Linked DNA regions of Homo sapiens: regions 2 and 3 are each linked to region 1. Evidence: fine-mapped expression QTL. A gene starts in region 1. Each other region holds a variant in brackets. All regions are shown on one strand. Distances are from middle to middle. Region 1 holds the start of CABP5 (calcium binding protein 5). Region 2 overlaps LIG1 (DNA ligase 1). Region 3 overlaps PLA2G4C (phospholipase A2 group IVC).

The links.
Region 2: its variant is fine-mapped to the expression of CABP5 in whole blood (TOPMed, PIP above 0.99). The same link has a PIP of 0.9 or more in blood mononuclear cells.
Region 3: its variant is fine-mapped to the expression of CABP5 in whole blood (INTERVAL, PIP 0.99).

What each region holds. Positions count from the first base shown.
Region 1 is chr19:48,038,308-48,049,491 of GRCh38, reverse strand. CABP5 (calcium binding protein 5) reads left to right here and starts at 5,413. Exons shown (of 6, transcript NM_019855.5): 1 at 5,413-5,632; 2 at 7,889-7,919; 3 at 8,744-8,887; 4 at 10,175-10,284. The coding sequence starts at 5,570. PLA2G4C (phospholipase A2 group IVC) reads left to right here. Exons shown (of 17, transcript NM_003706.3): 17 at 1,104-1,646. The coding sequence ends at 1,149.
Region 2 is chr19:48,114,314-48,124,381 of GRCh38, reverse strand. It overlaps LIG1 (DNA ligase 1), which reads left to right. Exons shown (of 28, transcript NM_000234.3): 22 at 1,064-1,208; 23 at 1,366-1,448; 24 at 3,060-3,212; 25 at 5,192-5,245; 26 at 6,601-6,744; 27 at 8,417-8,509; 28 at 8,650-8,937. The coding sequence ends at 8,733. Among named protein-coding and RNA genes, the nearest start is that of PLA2G4C, 8.5 kb to the right of the region's middle. RefSeq lists a silencer at 2,226-2,415. The variant T/C (reference allele first, on the strand shown) is at 5,094.
Region 3 is chr19:48,098,566-48,108,690 of GRCh38, reverse strand. PLA2G4C (phospholipase A2 group IVC) reads left to right here. Exons shown (of 17, transcript NM_003706.3): 2 at 2,130-2,169; 3 at 3,247-3,358; 4 at 3,967-4,103; 5 at 8,831-9,020. The coding sequence starts at 2,162. Among named protein-coding and RNA genes, the nearest start is that of PLA2G4C, 7.2 kb to the left of the region's middle. The variant T/C (reference allele first, on the strand shown) is at 8,193.

The DNA.
Region 1 (11,184 bases):
CATAAACAGGTAAACAAAGAAGTCAACAGGATGGCCATGGAGAGTAAGTGCCATGGAGACGACCGAACGTGCGGTGTGCTGAGGAGTAAAGTGAAAGCTTTTTAGGAAAGGGTCTGGGGGTCTGGGAAGGCATCCTGAGGGAGAGACCTTTCACCTGGGGCTGAATACTGAGAAGGGGTGGCCATGAGGAAGTCTTGGGGAACAGAATTCTGTGCAAAGGAAAAGTAAATGCAAAGTGTCTGGAGTGGGAAAGACCTTGATCTGTGTCTTACCTATGTCTATAACATTCTGTACTAATATAAAGGCATATCTGAGGCTCGGTAATTTATAAAGGAAAGAGGTTTATTTGGCTCATGGTTCTGTAGGCTGTGCAAGAAGCATGGCGCCTGTATCTACTTCTGGTGAAGGCTTCAGAGAGCATCCAATCCTGGTGGAAGGGGAAGGGGGGCTGGCGTGTTACATGGTGAGAGAGAGCAAGAGAGAGAGAAGGGAGGAAAGCACCAGTTTCCTTTTAACAACCAGATCTCAAGTGAACTAATAGAGCAAGAACTCACTCATTACCGCAGGGAAGGCACCAACCCATTCATGAAGGATCCACTCCCATGATCCAAACATCTCCCTCTGGGCCCCACCTCCAACACTGGGGATCACATTTCAACATGAGATTTGGAGGGGACGAATTTCCAAACTATATCAGTCTATTCGAGGAACAGAAGGAAAGCTGTTATTGCTGGATCAGGGTAGGGGAAGCACGGAATGAAATGTGATTGGAGAGATGGACAGAGATCAGATCTTGTGAATTCTGGCAGGTATCATGACATTCGATGTAGGCCAAAGAGTTACCTCCTAGCCCAGCTCCTGATACATGCTTAATAAGCGTAGTGTTGGATAAATAAACGTTTACGTGGTAAAAGTAGATCACAAGAGCTCCACAGGAGGAGGTGGTGGAGCTCCAGGTCTTCTCAATGAATGAAAGAATGGATGAATGTCTTTCTCCTAAGTCATGTATGACCTGTAGAGGCTTCCAGGTCTTCTAATCTTATCCAGTGTGCAACACTGCCTACAAAGCACAGTGGTAACTTCTAACTTTCCTTTCTCCCCAGGCTCTACTACCCGAAGGATAGTGCCCGAAGTTGCTGCTTGGCATAGATGAGCCTCAGCTTCCAGGGCACTGTGGGCCTGTTGGTCTACTAGGGCCCTGATGTCCACCTGGCCTTCCTGTTCTTCACTCCCTTCAGCCACACGCTTCATGGCCTTGAGTTCACCTTGGCTGTCCTAACAGGGCCAATCACCAGTGACCAGCTAGACTGTGATTTTGATAGCGTCATTCAGAAGAAGGCGTCCAAGGAGCTGAAGGTGGTGAAATTTGTCCTGCAGGTCCCTCGGGAGATCCTGGAGCTGGAGCATGAGTGTCTGACAATCAGAAGCATCATGTCCAATGTCCAGATGGCCAGAATGAATGTGATAGTTCAGACCAATGCCTTCCACTGCTCCTTTATGACTGCACTTCTAGCCAGTAGCTCTGCACAAGTTAGCTCTGTAGAAGTAAGAACTTGGGCTTAAATCATGGGCTATCTCTCCACAGCCAAGTGGAGCTCTGAGAATACAACAAGTGCTCAATAAATGCTTGCTGATTGACTGATGGATTAGCTGTGTGTGTGTGTCTTGGTCTGCCACCACCCCTGCTGCGGCCCTTTTCACCCTCTGTGTACCCTTTACTTGTTCCTTTCTTCCCTTCCCCCTTTCCTTTCCATCTTCTTCCATCTATATCTCAGCAATTAAGCATGGTGGTTCCACAGCTGGGTTTGGATCTTACTTCTGTTATCTGCTTACCATGAGAACATGGGCAAGAGCCTTCGCCTCCATGCCCCAGTTCCATCGTCTGTAGAATAGACCATCACGGAGCCTGTATCCTAGAAAGGCTTAAATGAGTTCATGAGTCTCAAGACCTTAGAATAGTTAGTCTGGCACCGACGGAGTTCCAGAGCAATTATTATTCATACAGGCTTTCCAGAATTAAAGCAGGACTGTTATGGGATGAATTGTGTGTCCCACCCCCACCAAAAGATGTGGCCATTGTAACCCCCAGTGCCTGTGAATGTGACCTTGCATGGAAATAAGGTCTTTACCAATGTCATCAAGTGAAGATGAGGTCACTCGTGTGGACCCTAATCCACAATGACTAGTGTCCTTATGAAAAGGAGAGATTTCGCCGGGCGCAGTGGCTCACGCCTGTACTCCCAGCACTTTGGGAGGCCGAGGCAGGTGGATCACAAAGTCAAGAGATTGATACCATCCTGACCAACATGGTGAAACCTCATCTCTACTAAAAATACAAAAATTAGCTGGGCATGGTGGCACACACCTATAGTCCCAGCTACTCGGGAGGCTGAGGCAGGAGAACCGCTTGAACCCAGGAGGTGGAGCTTGCAGTGAGCCAAATCATGCCACTGCACTCCAGCCTGGTGACAGAGTGAAGACTCTGTCTCAAAAAAAAAAAAAAAAAAAAAAAAAAAAGGAAAGAAAAGGGGGGATTTAGGGGAGGGAGAGCATTATGACAAATACCTAATGCATGCAGGGCTTAATACCTAGGTGACGGGTTGATTGGTGCAGCAAACCAGCATGGCACATGTATACCTATGTAATAAACCTGCATGTTCAGCACATGTATCCCAGATTTGAAATAAAATTCTTTTAAAAAAGGGGGGGGGATTTAAAGACAGAGACAGGCATGTATACAGAGAGGAAACCATGTGAACATGGAAGCAGGGATTGGGGTGAGGCTCTACTGACCAAGGGCCGCCAAACTATTGCCAGCAAACCACCAGTCATCCGAAAGAAGACCTTGATAGCAGAAGGATCCTGTTCAGAATTCTGTGTTGCATTCAGTCGTAGCTTTTTTTTTTTTTTTTTTTTTTTTTTGGACAGAGTTTTGCTCTTGTTGCCCAGGCTGGAGTGCAATGGCACGATCTTGGGCTCACTGCAACCTCCGCCTCCTGGGTTTAAGCGATTCTGCTGCCTCAGCCTCCCGAGTAGCAGGGATTACAGGCATGTGCCACCATGCCGGGCTAATTTTTTTGTATTTTTAGTAGAGACGGGGTTTCTCCACGTTGGTTAGGCTGGTCTCGAACTCCTGACCTCAGGTGATCTGCCCACCTCAGCCTCCCAAATTGCTGGGATTACAGGTGTGAGCCATCGCGCCCAGCCTCGGCCATGTCTTCTTAGTCTCCTCCAATCTCGAACGGTTCCTCAATCTTTCCTTGATTTTCATGACCTTGACATTTTTGAAGCTTACAGGCCAGTTATTTTGTAAACCATCCCTCCATGTGGGTTCGTCTGACGTCTGATTATGATGAGATTCAGGAATCTTACAGAAGCGATGCTGTTCTCGTGACATCCTGTCAGGTGGTGTGAAATTCCAACTTGTCACATTACTGATGATGTCCACTTTCATTGACTAAGATGGTGTTTGCCACGTTTCTCCACTATAACGTAACTCCTTTGAAATTGGTATTTTGTAGGGAGGTATTTTGAGCTCTGTAAATATCAAACTTCTCACTTAGCTTTTTATTTATCTGAGTATGGACTCCTGGTTTCTTCTGTGGTCCTGTATAATTTGTTACTATCATTATTTATTTTGACTCTCAAACTGCCCAGTATGGCCAATGGAGCTTCTTCAAGCAGACTCCTGTGTTCTTTCCACATGTTCTCACAACACTTTGAGCAATTTCTTGCTTTAAGCATAGGACGTTTGTAGGCTCATCTTGTTCTTTTTTTGCTCTAGACATGGAATCAGCCAAATTTCCTAGGCACTCTGGTTCCATTTGGTGGAGAATGGTATATAGAAGTCAAGATTTGGATGCTAGTGGTGCTCATTCATATGGGCCATCATTGTTTCTATGTTCTCTTAGTGGAGAGAGCTAGAGAATATGTGTACAAATGTTCCTATACACACTGAAACTATGTGTTTATTTTTATCTCTCTATGTATAATTGAGATCCATGAGGACATACCAACGCCTCCAGTTATAGTCCAACACCACAGGGCTCATTCGACTTTCCTCCTTTCTGTCTTAGTAACTCCCTTTTCCAACAGTAGGAGACCTGGCCCCCATTCCCCTTACTCACTGTGTGTAGCCAATTTCCCTTTTCCTTTGCCATTTCACCCCTGTGGGGATGTCTTTCCCAGCCTAGTCTGGCTTCAACACCATACACCATGCTATTCCCATGAGTGGACATTTCTCTCTCTGCTTGGGTTATGACAACCCATGCCAGATCCCCTCTATGTGGCCTCCTTCCTAATTGCCTTACAGTGCAAACCTCCACCCCAGACAATGCCTGCATATAAATGCCCCCGCCCCACTCAGCTCATGTTCCAACACTGCACACCAAGCTGCCCATCTGTGGATTTATCCCCACCATCTCCAGCCCCAACACCCTGGGTCATGCTGCCCCTCTATGTGGACTTCTCCTCACCCCACTACCCCACTGGAATGCTGGCTCTCCACGCCAGATGGCCCCCAGCCCCCTCCTCCCCTAACCCTACCTAGTGTGGAGTCGCAAAACCCCTTTGGGCTTTGACACCACCATAACTTCACACCCTCCCTGACACCCCCACCTTGCTTTTTCCCTCTAAATCATTCAGGAAAGACAGAAGGAAAGAGATGAACAGAGGAAGAGCAAATGCCATGCTCTTAGTCACCGTGTACGCCCACTTCCTGAAGTCCATGCTTGCATCCTGCTCACTCTCACACATTCCCGACTCACCCAGGAAAACTCCCTGAGGCCAGGGGTGCTGAGCTCTCCATCTCACTGCCCAGAGGCCAGTGTTGGAGTGACCCTTCACATGCTTGTTGGAACATTGAATAAATGATGCCGTCTGCTCTAATCCTCCATTTTCTTTTCTTTTTTTTCTTTTTTTTTCTTTTTTTCGAGACAGGGTCTCACTATGTCAGCCAGGCTGGAGTACAATGGTGCAATCGTAGTTCACTGCAGCCTGGAGTGCAATGGTACAATCATAGCTCACTGCAGCCTTGAACTCCTGGGCTCAAGCAATCCTCCCATCTCTGCCTTTGGAGCAGCTGGGACTACAGGTGTGTGCCACCATGCACGGCTAATTTTTTTATTTTTTGTAAAGACAGCCTCTCCGTATGTTGCTCAGCTGGTCTCAAACTCCTGGGCTCAAGCAATCCTCCCACCTCAGCCTCCCAAAGCGCTGGGACTACAGACATGAGCACCACATCCAGCCTCTAATCCCCATTTATAAAATGCACTTTCCAATTCCACTCTGGGGATAAAGGCGTCACAGAACCTGACTCTGCATTTCCCCACCCATATCATTCAAGCCAGATGGGGAGGCAGGGACAGCTCTGGTCCCTCCCCAACCCGGGTAGAGATTTCCAGCCCAGCTGTCACAGCTCTAAGACACCGGGACCGAAGGAGAAGCCAAGAGAGGCAGGAAGAGGTGGCAAAGGAGTGCTGGAGAAGATAAGGAGGCTGAGCTCCGACAGGGAGCAGGGAGGAGGGGCCATCTTGAGACTGGTGCCCTGCGAGCTCCACCCCACCCCTCCATGCAGTTCCCCATGGGCCCCGCCTGCATCTTCTTGAGGAAAGGCATTGCTGAGAAACAGCGGGTGAGGTGGGGAGTGAGGGGGAAGGGCGGTGGGCGGGGCAAAGGGAGCAGGGGTGTGGGACAAAGAAGGGGACATGATGGTGCCACAGAACCAGGGGAACAGGTGGATAGAGCAGGAGCTGAGAAGGTATAAGAAATTCCAAGGACCCTGGTGGGGTCATGTAAGCCAGTGAGATAAATGGGTGGGGGTAAAATCAAAAGTCAGGAGCAAAGAGAAGGAGAGAAAAGGAAGAAAAATGAAAAGGGAAAGTGGGATGATGTCATTGTTGAGATTACCATCATTCTTTTCTATGGATGCTCATTGTGATAATGGTGGTGATGATGGTGGTGGTGGTGATGATAATGATGACGTTAATAACAATAGCTGCCACTTATTAAGTCATTGTTCTGTGCCCAGCCCTGTGCAAAGGGATTTGCACACCTGATGTTATTTACACCTCAGAACAACTCATGAGGTCAGTGACTTTCATTCCCATTTTACAGGTGAGGAAAGTGAAGCTCTGAGTCATGAAGTCATTTGCCTTAAGCTTACACAGTTAGTAAGTGGCAGGGTCGGCCAAGTATAGTGGCTCATGCCTGAATCGCAGCATCTTGGGAGGCAGAGGCGGGAGGATCACTTATGTCCAGGAGTTTGAGACCAGCCTGGGAAACACAAGACCCCATCTCTACTAAAAATACAAAAAAATAGCTCAGCATGGTGGCATGCATCTGCAGTCCCAGCTACTCAGGTGGCTGAGGCAGGAGGATCGCTTGAGCCCAGGAAGTGGAGGCTGCAGTGAGCCCTGATTATGCCACTGCACTCCAGCCTGGGCAACAAAGTGAGACTTTGTCTCGTTAAAAAAAAGTAAGTGGCAGGGTCGGGTTTGCTTGATTCCTGTGGGCATGCTTTTTAAAATTTTTTTATTTTTCCATATATACCAACTTGTCCAGATATGTGGGCATACTTTTCATTGTTAGGCTTTAAGATCACCAAAAAAAGAGAATAAAAAAGGCCAGGCAGTGGCTCACGCCTGTGATCCCAGCCCTTTGGGAGGCCAAAGCAGGTGGATCACGAGGTCAGGAGGTCAAGACCAGCCTGGCCAAGATGGTGAAACCCTGTCTCTATTAGAAATACAAAAATTAGCCGGGTGCAGTGGCAGGCGCCTGTAATCCCAGCTACTCGGGAGGCTGAGGCAGGAGAATCGCTTGAACCCGGGAGGCAGAGGTTGCAGTGAGCCGAGTTCGTGCCACTGCACTCCAGCTTGGGTGACAGAGCGAGACTGTGTCTCAAAAAAAAAAAAGAGAGAGAGAATGAAAAAAAGGGTGATAAGGGACCGCAAGGAGGGGATCAGATGAAAGAGAAGCTGAGGGAAAGGCTCCAGGGATAAAGGGAGATGGGAAGGCTAAAGAGACCAGAGGTCAGTAGAATTTCCTTGTTAACATGCCATGTATATGTAAGCCCAACCCTTCAGGTATGTGCAGGAGTAGGTGGGGCAGCAATAACTGGACATTCTCAGAGTGTTTAGGAACTGGTCATGCTGGCACTGACCCTCCTGCCTGAAAGCCATTGAATGCTGTTTCCATGCACAGAGATTCTAACCTTTGGCAGGAAGATTGGAGGCAGGTGAGAAAGGAGTGAATGGGGGCTAGTGTGAAGAATTCTGACTTGGGAGTCAGGAGCCCTGAATTCAAATCCCAATACTGTGTCTGACTTGCCCCATGACCTCCAGGGAGCAGGTGAATGCCTTCCTCCCTTGGGAGGGGATCTGCTGCTTGTGAGCTGTGTGACCTTGTGCAGGTTCCTTAACCTCTCTGTTCCTCAGCTTTCTCATGGGTAAGATGGAAACGAGATGTAGATCTGCATCACAGAGCAGTACTGAGGTTTAAATGAAATGATTGTGGAAACTGCCTGGCACAGAGTCACCACTCTGAATGAGTTAGCTGTGGTTGTGAAGTCTCACTTTTTTCATCTGGAGATTGGACTCCCCAGTGTTTAAGACCCCCTTTGACACAATGTGATGGGTGTTTGTCTCAGAAAGGGAGAAAAAGGGAGATTGGGATTCGTGGGTGGGAGAGAGACATCGAGAGGGGGGTGGGGAGCCAAGAACTGTGGAACAGGAGTCAGGAGATGGGAAAAGGAATGGGAGGGATGGAGGAGGAGAGAGAGAATGGAAAGAGAACCACGAGAGCGTGGGGAGGAGCTTGGGAGAACAAGGAGACCCTTTGGAGAATGGGTGACCCTCTCTCCAAATTCCCTCTCATCTGCATTCCTTTCCAGGAAAGACCACTGGGACAAGATGAGATTGAAGGTAACACCGTCTTCCCCAGTTGCTTCCACGTTGCCATCCACCCACCTGACCTGCCCTCAGTCCCTTTGTGCATTTCCGTATAAATTCCATTACATGGAATTTTTACAATCCCTCTCTCTTCCCACTCAACTGTAATTTTGTAGAACTCTTTCTCGTGGCAGTTGAAGGACTTCCCAAAGTATTTCGAAGGCATATCCATCCTCAAGTATCTCCAAGACTCAGGAGTGAAAACAAATGAGTTTCTCTCTTGGTGACTTTGAGGTTCCCCATAACTTCATCCAGGAATCTGAAGGACGCCAGTGCTCTCATTTAGTGGTCTCAGGAATGATGCCTCTTTTGCTAACACATTTCATACATCACTCCTTTTTGAATTTTTTTTTCTTTTTTGAGACAGAGTTTTGCTCTTGTTGCCAGGCTGGAGTGCAATGGCACGATCTCCTCTCACTGCTACCTCCGCCTCCCAGGTTCAAGCGATTCTTCTGCCTTGGCTGAGGCAGCCTCCCTAGTAGCTGGGATCAAAGGCATGAGCCACCATGCCCAGCTAATTTTTTTGTATTTAGTAGAGATGGGGTTCTGCCATGTTGGTCAGTCTGGCCTCAAACTCCTCACCTCAGGTGATCCACCCACCTCGACCTCCCAAAGTGCTGGGATTACAGCCATGAGCCACCACATCCGGCCTTGGTTTTTTTGTTTTGTTTTGTTTTGTTTCTAATGTACGCTCCTTTAAGGAGTCTCTAGTTGGAGCCTCATTGATAGCTTCAAGAGATGCCACTCTTCCCCACTGACTGCTTCAAGTTCCCCCAAAGTTCTCTCTTAACTTTCAGAGCTGCGGGAAGCATTTCTTGAGTTCGATAAGGACCGAGATGGGTTCATCTCTTGTAAGGATCTGGGGAATCTCATGAGGACGATGGGTTACATGCCCACGGAGATGGAACTGATTGAGCTCGGCCAGCAAATCCGCATGAACCGTGAGTCCAGGGAATGGGAGGGATGGCCGGGGTTAGGGAAGGGATCAGGGCAGAATTGGGAAGGATGTAGAGGTTAAGAGTAGAGTTGGGGGTGGAGAGGAGGATGAGAGGGACTAGAAGTCTGGAAGAAAACAGGTCAGATTCGACTCAGGAAGGCAGCATTTGAAGTGGTTAAAAGCTTTTAGAGATAGGTCTGGGTTCAAATCTCAGTTCTATTATTTACTAATTACAGTCATTTTGAAAAGTGAAGTTATCCGCTACTCTTCAGTTTCCATTTCCTCATCTATAGAGGAAGATGCCTCTCTCCTTACCTCATGGGACTGTGGAAAGGAAGAGAAGGAAGAGATAAAGATGCTGATGCAGTTAAAGTCTTAGCCTCCAGTAAATTCTTATTAAAGGTAGTTATTACTATCACCACTAAGATTCATCAGTGGAGCACGAGATTGGAGCTGTATTGGATGTTGGAAACAAACTTGGAGCTGGAGCTAATGTTGGTGAATACAGCTGCAAAAAGGATGGATGGATTTTTGGATGGAGATCATAACTGATTTTTAGATTTTAGCTAGAATAAAATTCCTATTGAGGCTGGGCGCAGTGTCTCACACCTGTAACCTGTAATTCCAGCACTCTGGGAGGCTGAGGTGGGCAGATCACCTGAGGTTAGGGGTTTGTGAACAGCATGGGCAACATGGTGACACCCCGTCTCTACTAAAAATACAAAAAATTAGCCAGGCGTGATGGCGTGCACCTGTAATCCCAGCTACTCGGGAGGCTAAGGTACGAGAATCGCTTGAACCCGGGAGGCAGAGGTTGCAGTGAGCCGAGATCGCACCATTGCACTCCAGCCTTGGCAACAGAGTGGGACTCTGTCTCAAAAAAAAAAAAAAAAAAAAAAAAAAAAGCTATTGGGTTTGCTTCTGGGCATGTAACGAACTAAACAAGGTTGAATTCAAGGTAATGATAGTATTCATATCTGAAAAAAAAATTGTATGCTCATTTAATTCATGCTCCTCTTTGTACAGGTCTACAGAGGAGGAGAAACATCTTAACCAACTGTCTGAAAGTCACACAGGCAGTTACTTCCACCATACCACACCCTATCCACTCCTGTTCAGGCTAGAGGGACATGAGTTTGGAGCTTGGAGTTAGCTGCTGGAGGGAGGAAGTCAAAGACGGCTCTTATAGGGCAGGGAGAAGGGAGCTGATCTAACTGACTCGAAGCACAAAGTGAGGTAATGGAAGGCCAGGGCTTGTGGGGTCTCGCTAATCCTGTGCCATCTTCCTCAGTGGGTGGCCGTGTAGACTTTGATGACTTTGTGGAGCTGATGACCCCCAAATTGCTTGCAGAAACAGCTGGGATGATCGGTGTCCAGGAGATGCGGGATGCCTTCAAGGAGGTGAGTTAACAGTGTCATGGTGCTGGTGATGGTAGAGGCAGACCCTCTGAGGTCTGCCTGTAATTAGCCAATGCCATGGACAGCACCCACCAACCAGGCCCCCACCTTTTTTTTTCCAGCCATGGTGGGATCAATAAATAGGGAAGAAAAATAACGTATTCCAAACACCTGCAATGGATCAATGCCTCTGTATACTTTATCTGATTTAATCCTCAAAAAAACAAACAAACAAAAACAAAAACACGCACACAAACACATTAGGAGTAAGCAAGCAGTCATGTATCCCAATTAAACAGATGAGAAAAGTGAGGCTCATGAAGATTATAAATCTTATCCAAGATCCTGCCATCTCTAGAATAAATGTTAGGACTTTTTTTTTTTGAGACGGGGTTTCACTGTTGTCCCCAGGCTGGAGTGCAATGGTGCAATCTCGGCTCACTACAACCTCTGCCTCCCGGGTTCAAGCCAGTCTCCTGTCTCAGCCTCCTAAGTAACTGGGATTACAGGTGCGCGATACCACACCCAGCTAATTTTTGTATTTTTCGTAGAGACGGGGTTTCACCATGTTGACCAGGCTGGTCTCGAACTCCTGACCTCAAGTGATCCACCTGCCTCGGTCTCCCAAAGTGCTGGGATTACAGGCATGAGCCACCGTGCCTGGCCAGGGCCTCTATTCTTAGTGCCTGTAACAGGAAGAATCCAAGAATTTGAGATCCCAGAAGGGAATGCAAAGTGGTCATCTGGTACGAACCACTTGCTGCAGACATACTAAAAAATATCAGACCCAGTGAGAATAACAGACTTGCTTATATCCCCTGATAAAATACCTTCTCGTTCTGAGAGCTTTCAGCAACACAAGGTGAAAATAAAGAGTAGTAGAGTGTTTGGGAGCAAAGGATT
Region 2 (10,068 bases), 75 kb before region 1:
GGAAACGCTTGCCTGAAGTCACCAGCTAGGAAGCGTGTGGCTGGGATGTAAACCTGAAATGGTCTGACCCCAGATAAATTGTACCTGCTTAACCCTTGTGGCTCCTCTCTCTCATCTTTTCATACAAAATGTTCATGAGCACAATTTTACAACAGAAAAAAGCTGTCCATGGAAAACACGTGAATGTCCCCCTGGAGGGCAAGTGGTGAAGGTAGTTTAACATCATCACAGAGAAGCCCTGAGCAAAGGGCAGACCAGAAACACTGCGCGTGGGTGGGGACCGATCGAACAAAAGAGAAAAGCAATTCAAAGCCACAAGACGGATTAGTCAGTGTTGACATGTGGAGACAACTGCTTTGTCCTTTGTTTAAAAACACTCAGATCACCTCCTTCCTCTCTGACACACACTCTTGCAAGGTCCAGCTGGAACTGATTTCAAAGCAAAACACAAAACTGTAAATGTGCTGGAAAAACTCAGTGAAAACTTTTGGAATTCTAAGGAAAGGAGGACTTTTTTTTTTTTTTTTAATTATCTTGGGGATGAGGCTGGATGCAGTGGCTCACGCCTGTAATCCCAACACTTTGGGAGGCTGAGGTGGGTGGATCTCTTGTGATGTGCACCTGTAGTCCCAGCTACTCGGGAGGCCGACGCAAGACAGTCGCTTGAATTCAGGAGGCGGAGGCTGCAGTCAGCCAAGATCGCACCACCGCACTCCAGCCTGGGCGACAGAGCGAGATTCCGTCTCAAAAAAACAAAAACAAAAAACAAAACTGATGAGATGCCCGTAAAGTGTTAATTCAAGCTCCAGCAAGGCCGCAGCCCCCCGTCTGATGCTCCTGAAGTCACCGACTCTAAATGGTGTCGGGCCCTCTTGCCAGTGACTAGCCCCATGCTTTAAGCTCTCAGAATCCTTCTGACATCAGGGTTCTTCCCTCTCAAGGCTTTCCACGAACCCTGTCACTAGTTGTGACCCGCACATGTCCTGTTCGCCTCACATTTAGGGCTTATTGTCTTTATTCTCACAAAGATGTCTCATCTCTCTTCTCCCTGCCGGCCCTGCAGTCCCTGGTACGTGAGCCCCTTTCCCGGCGCCGGCAGCTGCTCCGGGAGAACTTTGTGGAGACAGAGGGCGAGTTTGTCTTCGCCACCTCCCTGGACACCAAGGACATCGAGCAGATCGCCGAGTTCCTGGAGCAGTCAGTGAAAGGTGAGGGTGCTCACTTTTCTCTCCTGAGGTCTGCAGCTTGCGCTGACCCCGGCCTCCCAGCCTGTCCCCAGTCCTGGACCGTTTGACCAGAATCCTGCCTGCTCCGGCGCTTGTGAGCCAGGGCTTCCCAAGGACCACGCTTCTGTGTCTCCCTCAGACTCCTGCGAGGGGCTGATGGTGAAGACCCTGGATGTTGATGCCACCTACGAGATCGCCAAGAGATCGCACAACTGGCTCAAGGTGATTCTCGACCCCCAACTGGGCCTTCTCCACCCCGGGTCTGGAGGTCTGTCCCAGCTAGGCAGTGGATTTCGAGCCTCCACTGTGTACCCTGTCTGAGCTCAGGGCCCCTTTTCACAATCCCACCCCAGCCCCCTGCTGCAACTGAGTTCAGACCTTCTCCCTGCTGCGAGCCCTTGCTCACGAGTTCTGATGGAGAACAGCCCCAGCCCAAGCACCGCACATCCCACGAGGTGCAGCGTGATGAGGTGTCTCTCTCCTGAGCCTGCCGCCCGTGTCGGGCCAGGCTCTTGGGCAGGAATTAAGCCAGGACATGAATAAGAGAAAGTCAGGCAGGAGTGGGCGCCATGAAGAAAAGCAAGTCAGCTCCGGGCCAGCAAGGCGGGGCTGGGAGTGCCCCGGATGATCAGGAAGAGTCTTTCCCAAAGTGAGGGACAGAGCACTAGGGAGGAAAACCCCCGGTGCAGAGACCCTGAGGGAGGAGCAGCCTCTGCGTGTGCAGGGAGCAAGGGCAGGCGAGGCGGGAGGTGAGCTCAGAGTGGGGAGCAGGCCCCAGATGAGGCAGCACCTGGGGCCACTGTGAGATAAAACTGGATCTTCCTCTTGAAGGTTTCAGGAAGTCAGTGGGGGTTCCGTGCCGGGAGTCACAGGTTGTCATTGTGCGAAGCTCCTGGGGTTTCCCCTCGAGTGGAGGACGGGTGTGTTGAGGGCCAGCGAGCAGGAGCCTGTCATCAGTAAGAGTTGATGGATGTTTGAGTGGAGAGGGGCAGTGAGGGGTGGACAAGGGGACTGGAGCGGGAGGCATTGTGGCACTGAGCCGGCCAGGCCTGCTGACTAGCTCTTCCTGTGTACTTATGTCTGTCTGTGGCTGGTTTCCCTCCAGCACAGACCTTTCCTGTCTCAGGAAATAGCACTGTTGTGCCCCCAGGGCTGAGCTTCTGCCTGGCACATGGTTAGCACTTAGTGAACGTTTCTGAACGAATGGGAAAATGCTCTCCCTTTGGAGGAGTGGCCAGAGTGAGTTGGCCACGTCTCTGTCCTGAGGGAAAGACGGCGGCAAGGCTGACTCCTGAGGTCCCATCGATCCCGCCTGCGTTTCCCATTTGTTCTTATTTATTTATTTATTTATTTTAAGACGGAGTTTCACTCTCATTGCCCAGGCTGGAGTGCAATGGCACGATCTTGGCTCACTGCAACCTCCGCCTCCCGGGTTCAAGCGATTCCCCTGCCTCAGCCTCCCAAGTAGCTGGGATTACAGGCACACGCCACCACGCCCGGCTAATTTTGTATTTTTAATAGAGACGGGGTTTCTCCATGTTGGTCAGACTGGTCTCGAACTCCCGACCTCAGGTGATCCACCCGCCTCGGCCTCCCAAAATGCTGGGATTACAGGCATGAGCCACCGTGCCCGGCCCCATTTGTTCTTATTTAAACCTAGAAACCCTTCCCATGTCCAGTCTCTTCCCAGGGGCCATCCTTGGGGTTCCTTCTGGAAGTTCCCTTCAGACTTACTTCTAGTCCCTCCTCAGTCCACTGAGGAGCCCCTCCCCAGCAGTGAGGGCCCCGCCTTGGGCGCTCCCCCTTCTCATCTCTTGCCTCCCCTTCTCCCAGCTGAAGAAGGACTACCTTGATGGCGTGGGTGACACCCTGGACCTGGTGGTGATCGGCGCCTACCTGGGCCGGGGGAAGCGGGCCGGCCGGTACGGGGGCTTCCTGCTGGCCTCCTACGACGAGGACAGTGAGGAGCTGCAGGCCATATGCAAGGTCCTGGGGAACTGGGGCTGATGGCAGAAGCAGGAGGGAAGGAGATTAGACTCCCGGGGGTATTTCCTATTGCACAACCCAGACCGAGGGGTGCTCACATCCCCCTGTGAAGGATCCGTTCTCCCCAGTTTTTATTTACTTTTTCTGGTTCTATGAGCAACTCTTGCTTCATATAGAAAAACAGGCTGGGATAGAAAGATGTCAGGAATGTGTGTCAGTGAGAGATTGAGATTAGCTACAAATAGTGGTGGCTCACATAAGAAAAGAATTTTTTTGTTATGAAATGAGAAGTGTGGAGGGGGCAGTCTGATGCCATTAGGGATTCAGGTTCCTCCTCTCCCCACATTTTTTTTTGTCCCCACATTTTTTTTTTCTGCCATGTGCCTCTGGCCTCATCATCACAATGTGGCTGCAGGAGTTCCAGCCCTCATGGCCATGCCTGCTCCACGCACCAGGGAAGAGCAAAGGGGGTTGGACCCTGAGTCAGCCTCAGCCAGTGAACACCTTCTGCTCAAGTTCTGTTGCTCATCACTTTGCTCCATGGCTCACCCCTAGCTGCAAGGAATTCTGGGAAATGTAAAGTGATTTACTTTTTTTCAAGTTAAAGTTTTTCTTAAAGCTGTGCACATTTTGGACTAGATTTTCTTACGTATTTCCTATATTCCCCTCTCCAACAAATTTGGGTCTTTTGCCACAGAAACAGAACAAAATATCACCTAGAATCGTACCACCCAGAGACACGCAGTAGTGACATTTGAGGGAATGTTTTATTTACATTTTTGCAAAGTTGTGATCCTTCTCTATGAGTAATTTTCTTTTCTGCCTTTTTACCCTGGAAGTACTTTGTTTTCAGTGTTGTATATGCCCTTAAGCAATATGGCAACAGGACCTGAATGCCCGCACAAGAGTTTTCAAGTGCTGTGCCCCATAGCACATAGTGCTGTGTCCTGAACCAGCTCCCCGTGGCTGTGTGGGGAAGTTGTTGCCGGCTTTGTTCTGATGGGTAATGTGATTACTTAGTGTCCGTTAACCTAAACGATCAGTGACAGAAGTGACTTTTATAAATCACAAATGTTTTGGCCACCAATCTACATTGTCACCATTTTGCATTATTTAGAATAGATTTTTAAATGAGCTATTGTCAGGACAAAAGGCAAAAAGAATCCTTAAGACTCTCAATGCAAAAGGGGCTTTCCAGGTGACGTTTATATTGGTGATTATTGCCCACTTGCTGCGTATCTGCCAGCATCCAGCATTACTGCTAATTTTTAGCCTTTCCTATTTTGGTAGGTGAAAGAAGCTCTTGGCAGTGTTAACATTGGAGATGGGCTGGGCATGGCCACTCACGCCTGTAATCCCAGCACTTTGGGAGGCTGAGGTGGGAGGATCACTTGAGCCCAGGAGTTCGGGACCAGCCTGGGCAACATAGTGAGACCCCACCTCTACAAAAACTTTTTTAAAAAATTAGCCAGGCGTGGTGGTGCATGCCTGTGGTCCCAGCTACTTGGGAGGCTGAGGCAGGAGGATTGCTTGAGCCCAGGAGGTGGAGGTTGCAGTGAGCCAAGATTGCACCACTGCACTCCAGCCTGGATAACAGAGCTACACCCTGTCTCAAAAAAAAAAAAAAAAAAAAAAAAAAAGACTGGAAGTGAGGACAGCCAGTTACTGGGCAGTGAGGATGTGGGTGAGCATAAGGGAGTGACTTCCTGGGGCCAGGGAGACAGTGGAAGCAGCAAGAGTTTCTCCATAAAGCAGAAGACAGGGAGTGGTTCACGGCAGGCCTGCTGGGAGAACATTCCCACCCGGGAGTCTCTGGATGGATGCTCCGCACCCCCAGCTCCCTACTTCCCTGGTTTTCTGTGGATACTGCGTAGACCAGAG[T/C]GGGGTGGGGGCCATGAGTGTACACAGCTTTAGATGGCAGGAGCAAGTGCTGGGCCTGTGGCTGGCTGAGCCTCTGACCTCCCGCTTCCTCCCTGCAGCTTGGAACTGGCTTCAGTGATGAGGAGCTGGAGGAGCATCACCAGAGCCTCAAGGTGAGCCATGGCGGCTGCGCCTCAGCCTCCACCCCTCTCCCCCCTGCCCCTGACAGCACAGTCCTTCCATGCAGGGCTCTTGGCTTCCACCATCTTGGGGCTCCAGGTGTGGGCAGGAGGGCAGCAGGCAGTGGAGCTGGCTTTGGAGTCCAGCATCTCCAGGTTCATGTCTCAGCACTGCCGGCTACTAGCTGGTGACCCTGCTCAAGCAGCCTCACCTCCCCAAGCCCTGTGCCTCATTCACACCAGGGGTTAGCCAAAGGACACAGCAGGTGCCATAGCTGCTCCTTGTGAAGTGCCTGTGAGCCCTGATCAATGTGAATGAATGTTGTCATGGTCACAGGCATTTCAGGCATGAGTGTCTGTCCTACATATTGGATCTGTATTAGTTTATTTTCATACTCATACTGCTATGAAGAAATAACCCAAGACTTGCCGGGCGTGGTGGCGCATGCCTGTGGTCCCAGCTACTTGGGAGGCTGAGGCAGAAGAATTGCTTGAACCCAGGATGCAGAGGTTGCAGTGAGCTGAAATCATGCCATTGCACTCCAGCCTGGGAAACAGAGTGAGACTCTGTCTCAAAAAAAAAAAAAAAAAAAAAAGGATCATTTATAAAGAGAGGTTTCCTGGACTCACAGTTCCACACGGCTGGGGAGGCCTCACAGTCATGGCAGAAGGCGAAAGAGGAGCAAAGGCACATCTTACATGGCGCCAGGCAAGAGAGCGTGTGCAGGGGAACTGCCCTTTATAAAGCCGTCAGATCTCGTGAGACTTCCTCACTATCACGAGAACAGCACGGGAAAAACCTGCCCCCATCGTTCAGTTACCTCCCACCAGGTCCCTCCACGACACATGGGGATTTTGGGAGCTATGATTCAAGACAAGATGTGGGTGGGGACACACGGACCCTGACACCATCTCTGTCCCACTCTTTGGTTCTCTCTCTCCATTGCCCTCTCTCTCTACATCTCTGTCCCTGTCCCACTGTGTCTCTGTCTCCTTCCTCCAGGTCTCTGGCCCTTTCTCTGCCTCTTTTTGTCTTTAATGTCCTGCCTCAGCCCCCAGGGCCTTTCATTTCTTTCCATCTCCCATTCCTCCCAACTCCCACCTTTCTCAACTTTTTACTTCAAGGGGGTCTTGTTTCTTTTCCCTTCTTTCACTTTCTGTTTCTCTTTCTATTTCTGTTTACTTCAAGGGGGTGTCTTGTTTCTTTTCCCTTATTTCACTTCCTATTTCTGTTTACTTCAAGGGGGTGCCTGTTTTTTTCCCTTCCTCCCTCTCCCCAGCCCTCCAACACTTGGCCTTGACTTTGAGATTCCAGACCCTCTGTTCCTCTCTTCCTCTGCTCACTGCAGGCGCTGGTGCTGCCCAGCCCACGCCCTTACGTGCGGATAGATGGCGCTGTGATTCCCGACCACTGGCTGGACCCCAGCGCTGTGTGGGAGGTGAAGTGCGCTGACCTCTCCCTCTCTCCCATCTACCCTGCTGCGCGGGGCCTGGTGAGTGGCAGAGGACCTGGCCGTGGCCCTGTGTGGGATTCTGGGCGGGCACACAGAGAGCAGAGTAGGGAGGGGACCTTGGCTCACATCTGCTCTTCCAGGTAAGGATCAGGAAGATGAGCTTGCATTTTATTTGAGTGTCAGATAAAAAGATCAAAACATTTTTTCTTTAAAAATGGGCCGGGCATGGGGGCTCGTGCCTGTAATCCCAGCACTTTGGGAGACCGAGGCAGGCAGATCACTTGAGGTCAGGAGTTCAAGGCCAGCCTGGCCAACATGGTGAAACCCCATCTCTACCAAAAATACAAAAATTAGCCATGTGTGATGGCGGGTGCCTGTAGTCCCAGCTACCCAGGAGGCTGAGGCAGGAGAATCGCTTGAACCTGGGAGGCGGAGGTTGCAGTGAGCCGAGATCACACCACTGTACTCCATCCTGGGTGACAAAGCAAGACTCTGTCTCAAAAAAAGAAAAGAAAATTCTTTTCTTAAATAAAAGAATTCCCAGGGCAAGCACAGTGGCTCATGCCTGTAATCCCAGCACTTTGGGAGGCCGAGGCAGGCAGATCACTTGAGGTCAGGAGTTCAAGACCAGCCTGACCAACACGGTGAAACCCCACCTCTACCAAAAAATAGAAAAATTAGCTGGGTATGGTGACCCGTGCCTGTAGAGACGGGGTTTCACCATGTTGACTAGGCTGGTCACAAACACCTGGCCTCAATCCGCCCACCTCGGCCTCCCAAAGTGCTGGGATTACAGGTGTGGGCCACCATGCCCAGCCAAGAACTTACATTTTTGATCTAATTTTTAAAAATGTTTTACCATGCTGCACGTTAGACAGCCAGGGACCCTTAGTAACAAGGCACAGGAGCCGGTGTGTATCCAGCCCTTGCTGTGCAGTGGGCACTGTGTGGTCATCAGCGTGTCACTCATAGACACTCATTTAATCCTCTCAAAATCCGTAAGACGTAGTGACACAAACATCTCCATTTTACGGTGAGGATGTAGAGCCCTAGAGAGCCTGAGTAACTGCCCCTGCATCACGCGGCTCCTGAGAGTTGGGAGCTGGGATTGGAATCCCACAGTCAGATTCTAGAACCCATACCCTGGCGCCGTAGTTCAGCCTCTCAGCCCGAATTACCGTCATTATCGTAACGGCTGTAGCAGGTGGCATTTTTTTTTTTTTTTTTTTGAGTTGGAGTCTCGCTCTGTCACCCAGGCTGGAGTACAGTGGCGCAATCTCAGCTCACTGCAAGCTCCCCACCTCCCGGATTCACGCCATTCTCCTGCCTCAGCTTCCTGAGTAGCTGGGACTACAGGCGCCCGCCACCACACCTGGCTAATTTCTTTTTGTATTTTTAGTAGAGGCGGGGTTTCACCGTGTTAGCCAGGATAGTCTCCATCTCCTGACCTCGTGATCCACCCGCCTCGGCCTCCCAAAGTGCTGGGATTACAGGGGTGAGCCACCGCACCCGGCCAACAGGCAGCATTTCTTGAGCACTTACTGTGCCCGGGTACTGTTCCAAGCACTTTGTCAACTTGTTTAATCCTTATGACAACCCATCGTTCGGCCCCGTCATGTGGATCAGGAAACAGTCCAGAGTGGAGGAGGGAGGAGACTGAGCAGGGGGTCGCTGGGGCTGGACCGCAGGAGTCTCCATCCCGCTTCCGCAGGTGGATAGTGACAAGGGCATCTCCCTTCGCTTCCCTCGGTTTATTCGAGTCCGTGAAGACAAGCAGCCGGAGCAGGCCACCACCAGTGCTCAGGTGAGGTCCTGGGAAGCAGGGGTGGGCCGCCCAGCTGCTTGGCCCTACCAGCTTTTTAGCGTGGTGGCCTCTCTGGAACCTTGTGGAGGTGGGAGCAGCCAGGGAGCTTCTGACCACCCCGTCCCACCCTCTCTCCGCAGGTGGCCTGTTTGTACCGGAAGCAAAGTCAGATTCAGAACCAACAAGGCGAGGACTCAGGCTCTGACCCTGAAGATACCTACTAAGCCCTCGCCCTCCTAGGGCCTGGGTACAGGGCATGAGTTGGACGGACCCCAGGGTTATTATTGCCTTTGCTTTTTAGCAAATCTGCTGTGGCAGGCTGTGGATTTTGAGAGTCAGGGGAGGGGTGTGTGTGTGAGGGGGTGGCTTACTCCGGAGTCTGGGATTCATCCCGTCATTTCTTTCAATAAATAATTATTGGATAGCTACTTTGTGACAGGGTCTGTGCTGGGCTCTGGGGGCAAAGCTGTCATGGGTGTCACCTGCATAGCATGTAGCCATGTAGCCATGGCCTAGGAACTGCCAGAGCCAGTGCCAGCCATGGAACTGCCTGCAGTGGTGGGCGTCTTCTCTATCTGCTCTGTGCAGTGTGACCGCCACTGGCCACCTGCAATGCCCGAGCCCTTGACAGGTGGCCAGCATGACAGAGGATGCGAATTTGTTTTGTTTTGTTTTGTTTTGATTTTGTTTTGAGACAGAGTCTCGCTCTGTTGCCCAGGCTGGAGTGCGATGATGAGATCTCAGCTCACTGCAACCTCCACCTTCCGGGTTCAAGTGATTCTCTTGCCTCAGCCTCCCATGTAGCTGGGATTACAGGAATGTGACACCACGCCTGGCTAATTTTTGTATTTTTAGTAGAGATGGGGTTTCGCCATGTTGGCCAGGCTGATCTTGAACTCTTGGCCTCAAGCGATCCACCCTCCTCAGCCCCCCTAAGTGCTGGGATTACAGGCGTGAGCCACCACACCCAGCCATACCAAATATTTTATTTAATTGTATTGGACAGCAGTAGTCTAAAATCTTTACATACATATATTTTTTAACTTGTTTAACCTTCCAGCCATCCCACAGGGAGGCACCATCGTGAGCCCTGTTAAGGAAGACAAATGCAGTGTCTTAAAATAACACAGATGTATTCCCTAAACAGTTTCGGAGGTCAGAAGTTCAAAATCAGTTTTACTGGGCTAACATCAAAGTGGTGGCAGGGCCGGTTCCTTCTGGGAGCTCCAGGAGAGAAACTGTGTCCTTTTTCCAGCTTCCAGAGGCCACCTGGTTCCTAGGCTCATGGCTTCTTCCTCCGTCCTCAAAGCCAGCAGCATCGCACCTGCAAATCTCTCTCCTGAGGTCATCAGGTCACGTCCTCTCCTCCATCAGATCTCTGTTTCTCTCTTCCAAGTACTCAAGTGGTTACATTTAGGGCCCCCTGGATGATCCAGGATAATCTCATTTCAGGATCCTAACTCAATCCCAAAGTCCCTTTAGTCACATAAGATCACACATTCACAGAGGCCAGGCACAGTGGCTCACGCCTTGGGGAGGACTTGGGGAGGCTGAGGTGG
Region 3 (10,125 bases), 60 kb before region 1:
TCTTAAGGTGCTGGGATTACAGCCATGAGCCACTGTGCCTGGCCTGAAGTCACATTCATAAGACAAGGTTAGAATCATGAAGGTGCTGGAACTTTGCTAAAGAACAGTCGTGGGTTGAAGAATGACCTGCCATCCCTTAGCTTCCTTTTCTATATGTGCTCCAGAGTCACGTAACCAGGGGTCGCATGATTTATAACTTCCCCAGCTACTTCTATAAATAATATCACTGTCGTGAAACACAGAACTCAGCTTTTTAGTGGGGTGTGGTAGCTAACACCTGTAATCCCCACTTCTTGGGAGGCTGAGGCAGGAGGATTGCATGAGCCCGGGAGAATGAGACCAGCCTGGGCAACATAGTGAGACCTCAATCTCTACAAAAAAATTAAAACTTTGCCAGACGTGGTGGTGCATGCCTGTAGTCCCAGCAACCCAGGAGGCCAAGGCAGGAGGATTGCTTGAGCCCAAGAGTTGGAGGCTGCAGTGAGCTATGATTGCGCCACTGTAGGGACCAGCCCTGCAGGGTCTGTGGGTCTTTCTCCCCATGTGCGGAGACGAGAGATCGTAGAAATAAAAACACAAGACAAAGAGATAGAAGAAAAGACAGCTGGGCCTGGGGGACCACTACCACCAAGACGCAGAGACCGATAGTGGCCCCAAATGCCTGGCTGCGCTGTTATTTATTGGATAATAAGGGGCAGAGTAAGGAGTGTGAGTCATCTCCAATGATTGATAAGGTCATGTGAGTCACGTGTCCACTGGACAGGGAGCCCTTCTATGTTAGGTAGCCAAGGCGTAGAGAGAGAGGATAGCTTATGTCATTATTTCTTTTATGTTCTTTTCAGAAAGATCAAAGACTTTAATATTTTAATACTTTCACTAATTCTGCTACTGCTATCTAGAGGGTGCAGCCAGGTATACAGAGTGGAACAGGAAAGTGAAACAGGAGTGTGACCACTGAAGCACAGCATCACAGGGAGATGGTCAGGCCTCTGGATAACTGCGGGCGGGCCTGACATCACTCAGGCCCTCCACAGGAGGCGGTGGAGCAGAGTCTTCCCTAACTCCCCCGGGGAAAGGGAGACTCCCTTTCCTGGTCTCTAGGCACTGACGCAACCGCTAGACCAAGGTCCGCTAGGCAATGGGCATCTTCCCAGACGCTGGCGTTACCCCAAGACCAAGGGGCCCTCTAGTGGCCCTATTCGGGCATGACAGAGGGCTCACACTTGTCTTCTGGTCACTCTTGACCTCAAGTGATCTGACTGCCTCGGCCTCCCAAAGTGCTGGGATTACAGGCATGAGCCACTGCTCCTGGCAATAATGTTTCGTTTTGTTTTTGTTTTAAAAAAAAGAAATTGTCTTTGAGATAGTTTTCAGAGTGAGCATTTTGGCAGACCAAGAGCTACCACCTGGTCCTGAGACCCGCTCCCAGGAACTGACTCAGCTATACAAAGATAGTTTTGGACACACCTGTGATTTCATCCATAGCCGATCAATTGTTCCCTCAGCCCCTTGCCCACCAAAGTTTCCTTAAAAAACCCTAGTCTCAGGTCGGACGCGGTGGCTCGTGCCTGTAATCCCAGCACTTTGGGAGGCCAAGGCGGGTGGATCACCTGAGGTCGGGAGTTCAAGCCCAGCCTGGCCAACATGGAGAAACCCCATCTCTACTAAAAATACAAAAATTAGCCGGGCATGGTGGTGCATGCCTGTAATCCCAGATACTCAGGAGGCTGAGGCAGGAGAATCGCTTGAACCCGGGAGGCGGAGGATGCAGTGAGCCGAGATCATGCCAATGCACTCCAGCCTGGTCAACAAGAGGGAAACTTCATCTAAAGAGAGAGAGACAGACAGAGACAGAGACAGAGGCAGAGAAAGAGAAAGAGCGAGGAAAAACCCTAGCCTCCAAATTTTCAGAGAGACGCGCTTGAAATATTTCTCCCATTCTCCTCGCTTGGCCGCCCCTGAGATTATTAAACTCTCTCTCTTTGCTGCAACACCTGCTGTTCGCATTGGTTTTGTCTGGGCAGTGGACAAGGAGAACCCATGAGCCCGTGACAGTCCCAGCCCTCCCCCACTGTCTTTGCTAAGCCCAACAGTGGGCACAGGACTAAGAAGAGCCATTTCTTTGGCAGGAGGACTGAGAATTTTCTGACCGCAGTGCACCATGGGAAGGTAAGTCCTCTTAGAGCTGACCACTATGGGGAAGCAGAGCATTTGTGTAATGGAATGCATAGTGAGTGTCAAGAGGTGAGGGCTGTGACAGTTCCTCTCGCTTGGTGGAGATAGATGGAAAGAGCTGAAGGTTGGGCATGGTGGCCCATGCCTGTAACCCCAGCACTTTTGGTGGCCGAGGCAAGAAGATCTCTTGAGCCCCAGAGTTCGAGACTAGCCTGGGCAACATGGTGAAACCCTATCTCTACAATAAAAGAAAATATTTTTAAAAATTAGCCAAGCATAGTGGTACACACCTGTAGTCCAAGCTACTTAGGAGGCTGAGACATGAGGATCACTTGAGTCCCGGTGTTCAAGGCTGCAGTAAGCTATGATTGCACCACCGCACTGGTGGTGGGCAACAGAGCAAGACCCTGTCTTATTGTTGAACCGGGGAGGTGGAGGTTGCAGTGAACTGAGATTGCGCCACTGCACTCCAGCCTGGGCAACAGAGCGAGACTCTGTCTCAAAAAAGAGAGAGAGAAAGAGAAAGAAAGAAAGAAAGAAAGAAAGAAAGAAAGAAAGAAAGAAAGAAGGGAGGGAGGGAGGGAGGGAGGGAGGGAGGGAGGGAGGGAGGGAGGGAGGGAGGGAGGGAAAGAAGGAGGGAAGGAAGGAAGGAGGAAGGAAGGAAGGATGGAAGGAAGGGAGGGAGGGAGGGAGGGGAGGGAAGGGGAGGGAGGGAGGGAGGGAGGGAGGTATGTCACCATGTTGGCCAGGCTGGTCTTGAACTCCTGGGCTCAAGTGATCCACCCACCTCACCCTCCCAAAGTGCTGGGATTACAGGTGTGAGCCACCGCGTCTGGCCCCAAAATTAACCATTTTGAAAAGTGAATAATTGACTGGCATTCAATGCATTCACAGTGTTGTACAACCATCACCTCTATCTAGTTTCAGAATATTTTCCTCACCCCAAAAGGAAACCATGTACCCGTGGGCTGGTGGCTACCTGCTTGGACAGCCCAGTTCTAGGTCAAATTCTGTGTTTTATCCCTTTTCCCTGTGAATTTTCTGGACTTCTTTGTGTTTTCTCCTGGGAAGCTCTGAAGTTTCCATAATTCCTGGGCTCCAGAAAGAAGAAAAGGCGGCCGTGGAGAGACGAAGACTTCATGTGCTGAAAGCTCTGAAGAAGCTAAGGATTGAGGCTGATGAGGTAAGTGAGGGGAGGAGGGTGGCCCCAGAGATCCCAGAATCGCCCCCTCTGTGCCCAGTGTCCAGGGCCCAACTCAGCCAGGGAGAGCTGGACCGAAGGATATGAACTTCTATGGGATAGAAATAGAAGGATATGAACTTCTATGGGACAGGCATTGCCCCTGCCTAAGGGAGATCCTAGGTCTCCTCCTTCTCCTCCTCCTCCTTTCTTTTTCTTTTCTTTTCTTTCTTTTTTTTTTTTTTTTTTTTTTGAGACAACGTCTCGCTCTGTCACCCAGGCTGGAATGCAGTGGCATGATCTTGGCTCACTGCAACCTCCACCTCCCAGGTTCAAGCTATTCCCCTGCATCAGCCTGCTGAGCAGCTGGGATTACAGGTGTGTGCCACCACACCCAGCTAATTTTTGTATTTTTAGTAGAGATGGGGTTTTACCACATTGACCAGGTTGGTCTTGAACTCCTGACCTCAAGTGATCCACCTGCCTCGGCCTCCCAATGTGCTGGGATTACAGGCGTGAGCCACGGTGCCCGGCCCCAGGTACCCTTCTTCTTGTTCCCACCTCCATCCTCAGGCTCTAAACCTCTGATCGATTTTCTCCCCAATGCCTAGGCCCCAGTTGTTGCTGTGCTGGGCTCAGGCGGAGGACTGCGGGCTCACATTGCCTGCCTTGGGGTCCTGAGTGAGATGAAAGAACAGGGCCTGTTGGATGCCGTCACGTACCTCGCAGGGGTCTCTGGATCCACTTGGTAAGCATCACTCATGTTTCAGATTGCTTTCTGACACATAAATGGGATTATTTTTTTCCTCCTGACACCAAATGTGTGTGGTTTTTTCCAACGCTGCTTCTCGAGCTCTCTGGTACTAGCTGGGTGTCCTACAATTCTGAGCAATTCTGACGCTGGCTACCTGGAGTTCACATCAGATTCCACAGGTGAAAGGGGCTCAGTCCCAAAAAACTGCTCCCACTTCAGACACGAGTTGCAATTACCTAGCCGCTGGTGCTTCTGACCGACTGGCAATAGTTTGGGGTTTCCCACAGCTTCCGCCTCATGTTCAATAATTTACTGGAATAGCTCACAGAACTCAGGAACACACTTTACTTACAATTGCTGGTGTATTACAAAAGATGGGCCAGGTGTGGTGGCTCACGCCTGTAATCCCAGAACTTTGGGAGGCTGAGGCAGGAAGATCGCTTGAGTCTAGGAGTTTGAGACCCAGGCGGGGCAACATAGCAAGACCCCATCTCTACAAAAAGTGAAAAAATTAGCCAGGCGTGGTGGTGCATGCCTATGGTCCCAGCTACTCAGGAAGTTGAGGCAGGAGGATTGCTTTAGCCTGGGAGGCTGAGGCTGCATTGAGCTACAATCACACCACTGCACACCAGCCTGGGTGACAGAGAGACCCTGTCTCAAAAAAAAAATTTTTTTTTTCTAAAAAAGAAAATTCCAAGGGTTTTAGGAACTCTGCACCAGGAAGCAGGGGAAAACACCAAGTATCTTTCTTTGCTACACAAAGCCATGGACAAAGCATAATAATACTACCTTCTGACATTAAAGGAGGATTTACATGTTCAGGTGCACTTTTCACACTGCAGGTGGATAGAATACAGCCCTTTTAACTTATCAGCCTCTATGATAAAGTATTGCATTAATCCGTGTAGGACTGTCTCATTCAGGAGGCCCCAGATGGCAGGTATGAAACACTCATGTCTGCATGTTTGTTGCCAAGCCCAGGGCAGACATGACTAATCGATCTTGGCACATTTTCAGAGCAGGAGGTAAGGCTAGGCAGAGCAGCAGAGGCTCGAGTGTGAGATAGGCAGGGCAGAGGCATGAATGTTGAGCCTGGCTGGCCTGATTTGTTTTCATTTCTGTGCTCAAAGTTTGATCTGGAGCTGGGTTCTGAGCTGGATGTGGAGGATGAGGTTCCTGGAGGCGACAGCATGAAGAGCAGAGCTGCAGAGCTTGGGAGTGGGAAAGGTCCTGCAGAGTCACACCGGACCCCTCTATTCCTCCAAGGCTCATCTAACATGTTGAGTGACATGGCGTGGGGGTTTAGCTGTACTGCACATTGCAGAACTCCAGGGGGCGCTATTGAGATAGGAACCCCATGATTTCTTCTGGAATCTTTCCGAGACTGCTGTGGTTAAAAAGGCAGGCCTGGCTGGACACAGGGACTCACACCTGTAATCCCAGTACTTTGGGAGGTCGAGGTGGGAGGATCTCTTGAGCCCAGGAGTTCAAGACCAGCCTGGGCAACATAGCAAGACCCCATCTCTACAAACAACAACAACGAAAGCCTTATATTTCAACAGCTTTGGGTTAGTTCCTGGAGCTGTCCTTTGTGGGCTGTTACGAGCCCAGACATACTTCTTTGTGCCTTGGTTTCCTCCGCTGTTGAGCATTGTAAGTGTGGACGATGAAGACTGGGAAAGGATGTGTGTGAGGAGGTCCTTCACAGGAACGCCTGCCTCATGGAGAGGGCGACACACAGAGGAAATGGAAAATTTACATGAAATAAATATAACTGCAGAACGGTCAAGTTCAAAGGAGCACTCAAAATCATCTGGGACAGTCCTTCCATTTCACAGGCAGGAAAATGAGAGCACGATGGGAGAAAGGCCTCATCAGAGTCAAATGTTTTTTGCAGCCAGCATTTATTAAAGGTTTACATGTGACAGCAACAAACTGTGCTGATCTCACAGGGCTGTTTGAGAATTAAATGATGAAACACATGCAAATCGTCCCAACCTGAGCTATCAAGTAGAGCTATGTAACATGAGCCACATCTATTCTATCATTTTAAATTTTCTTTCTTTCTTTTCTTTTCTTTTTTTCTTCTGGAGACACAGTCTTGCTCTTGTCGCCCAGGCTGGAGTGCAGTGGCGCGATCTTGGCTCATTGCAACCTCTACTTCCCAGGTTCAAGTGATTCTCCTGCCTCAGCCTCCCAGTTAGCTGGGATTACAGACGCGTGCCACCATGCCCAGCTAATTTTTGTATTTTTAGTAGAGACGGAGTTTCCCCGTGTTGGCCAGGCTGGTCTCAAACTTCTGACCTCAGGTGATCTGCCTGCCCTGGCTTCCCAAAGTGCTGGAATTACAGGTGTAAGCCACCATGTCCGGCCCATTTTAAATTTTCTAGTAGCCTCTTCAAGAAGGTAAAAAGAAACAGTGAAATGATCCATTTTCTTTAACCCAATATATCCAAAACATTAGCATTTTGACACATCGTTAAGAAAAAAATTGTTAATGAGATATTTGACATTCCTTTTGTCAGACTAGGTCTTTGAAAGCTGCTGGGCGTTTTATACTGAGCGCATTCCAAGTTGGATGCAGAAGTCTCATTAGATGTTAAAGGAGGCCCGGGGCAGTGGCTCACACCTGTAATCCCAGCACTTCAAGAGGCCGAGGCAGGTGGATCACCTGAGGTCAGGAGTTTGAGACCAGCCTGGCCAACACGGTGAAACCCTGTCTCTACTAAAAATACAAAAATTAGCTGGGTGTGGTGGCACGCACCTGTAATCCCAGCTACTTGGGAGGCTGAGGAAGGAGAATCACTTGAATCCGGGAGGCAGAGGTTGCAGTGAGCCGAGCTCGAACCACTGTACTTCAGCCTGGGTGACAAGAGTGAAACTCCATCTCAAAAAAAAAAAAAAAAAGATATTAAAGGAAAGAACTTTTCATACCCAGCTTGTTCCAAACATACTTCAGAGTTTCCCAATAACTGAATGGAGTACCAGTGTTTAAATTTAAGCTAATTAAAATGAAATAAATATTTTAAATCATGCTAGCCACACTTCAGGGGCTCAAGAGCTATGATGTATGTTTAATACATTGGATGGTGTGAGGGTAGATAGCACCCGATAAGCAGCATTAAGAACATCAAAAATTTTTATTGAGCCCGGGCACGGTGGCTCACACCTATAATCCCAGCATTTTGGGAAGCTGAGGTGGGAGGATTGCTTCAGGCCACAAGTTTGAGACCAGCGTGGGCAACATAGTGAGACTCCATCTCTACAGAAAATAAATTTAAAAATGAGCAGGGCATGGTGATGCACCTGGTGGGTAGTGGTCCCAGCTACTTGGGAGGCTGAGGTGGGAGGATCATTTGAGCCTGGGGGTTTGAGACTGCAGTGAGCCAAGATCATGCCACTGCACTCTAGTCTGGGCAACAGAGCAAGACCTGTCTCAAAAAAAAAAAAAAAAATATATATATATATATATATATAGACTCTATGTGACACACCAGCTCCCTTGCCTTCTGCCATGAGTAGAAGCTTTTTGCACCATGCTTCTTGTACAGCCTGCAGAACTGTGAGCTAAATAAACCTCTTTTCTTTATAAATTAATATATATAATATATATTTATTGAGTGAACAAATGAATATAAAGTCTTTTTTTTCTTTTTTTTTTTCTTTTTGAGATAGAGTCTTGCTCTGTTGCCCAGGCTGGAGTGCAGTGGCGCGATCTCGGCTCACTGCAAGCTCAGCCTCCCGGGTTCACGCCATTCTCCTGCCTCAGCCTCTCGAGTAGCTAGGACTATAGTAGCTGGGTCTGCAACCACACCCAGCTAATTTTTTGTATTTTTAGTAGAGACGGGGTTTCACCATGTTAGCCAGGATGGTCTCGATCTCCTGACCTCGTGATCCGCACACCTTGGCCTCCCAAAGTGCTAGGATCACAGGCGTAAGCCACCACGCCCAGCTTTTTTTTTTTTTTTTTTTTTTTTTAGATGGAGTCACGCTCTGTCGCCCAGGCTGGAGTGCAGTGGCACAATCTCAGCTCACTGCAACCTCCACCTCCCGGGTTCAAGCGATTCCTCTGCTTCAGCCTCC[T/C]GAGCAGCTGGGACCACAGGCGTGTGCCACCATGCCTGGCTAATTTTTGTGTTTTTAGTAGAGACAGGGTTTCCTGAGTATCCGGCACTAGAGGTACCCACCACCACGCATGCCACCACGCCTGGCTAATTTTTCTGTATTTTTAGTGGAGACGGGGTTTCACCATGTTGGCCAGGCTGGTCTCGAACTCCTGACCTCAGGCAATCCTCCCGCCTCGTCCTCCCAAAGTGCTGGGATTACATGCATGAACCACCACACCTGGCCCCGTTCATTGATTTTCTAGGATTATGTGAGTTAATAGGTATAAAAGACTAAAGACAGTTTGTTGCTGTCACATATAAACCTTTTAATAAGTGCTGGCTGCAAAAAACATTTGACTCTGATGAGGCCTTTCTCCCATCGTGCTCTCATTTTCCTGCCTGTGAAATGGAAGGATTGTCCCAGATGATTTTGAGTCCTCCTTCGAACTTGATCGTTCTGCAGTTGTATTTATTTAATGGAAATTTTCCGTTTCCTCTGTGTGTCGCCCTCTCCATGAGGCAGGTGTTCCTGTGAAGGACCTCCTTGCACACATCTTTCCCCAGTCTTCATCGTCCACACTTAAAATGCCCAACTCACTCTCTTCCTCTGTCCTCCAGGGCAATATCTTCTCTCTACACCAATGATGGTGACATGGAAGCTCTCGAGGCTGACCTGAAACATCGATTTACCCGACAGGAGTGGGACTTGGCTAAGAGCCTACAGAAAACCATCCAAGCAGCGAGGTCTGAGAATTACTCTCTGACCGACTTCTGGGCCTACATGGTTATCTCTAAGCAAACCAGAGAAGTAAGTCATTCCCAGCTGGGGACCTGGGGTGGGGGTAGGAGCAAGGGGTCTCAGGGTGTGGGGTTACCAAAGATGCTGACCAGCACCACCTTTTAAGTCCTTCAGGATTTTCAAGTCATCAAAATCTGGGCACTTCGGTTGATGCCTCAAAACTAAAGTATATCAGGATTACTGTGGTTGCAAGTGACAGAAATTGACTCTGATTCGTTTATGCAACAAATAAAGTGATATGATTTACTAGAAAGATACACAGACATCCAGGGCAAGAAGAACAATGAGGACTTATGATGGAATAAGGCAGAAATAGGGAAAGTGTCAGACCCAAGACAACTTTCCTCTCCATCTCTGCTTGGCCATTTGATGTCTTGAATTCACTATTTTATTTTATTTCATTTTATTTTTGAGACAGGGTCTTGCTCTGTCACCCAGGCTGGAGTGCAGTGGCGAGATCATGGCTCACTGCAGCTTCGACCTCCTGGGCTCAAGCAATCCTCTTGCCTCAGCCTTTTGAGTAAGCTGGGGCAACAGGCATGCACCATCGTGCCTGGCTAATTTTTAATTATTTTTTTTTTTGTAGAGACAGGGATCTTGCTATATTGCCCAGGCTGGTCTCAAACTCCTGAGCTCAAGCAATCCTCCAACTACTGGGTTCAAGTGATCCTCCTATCTCAGCCTCCCGAAGTGCTGGGATTACGTGTATGAGCCACTGCATCCAGCCTATCCTAACACATCGGGTTTTTGTTGTTTTTTGTTTGTTTTGTTTATTCTTGAGACAGGGTTTCACTCTGTCGTCCAGGCTGGAGTGCAGTGGTGCAATCACAGCTCACTGCAGCCTTGACCTCCTGGGCTCAAGCAATCCTCTCAGCTCAGCCTCCCAAGTAGCTGGGACTACAGGCACGCACCACTGGGCCTGACAAATTTTTTTTTTTTTTTTTTTTTTTTTTTTTTTTTTTTTTTAGAGATAGGGTTTCGCTTTTTTGCTCGGGGTGGTCTCCAAATCCTGGGCTCAAGTGATCCTTCCACCTCAGCCTCCCAAAGTGCTGGGATTATGGGTATGAGCCACAGCACCTAGCCTATCCAAGCACTTTGGGTGGCTGAGGCGGGA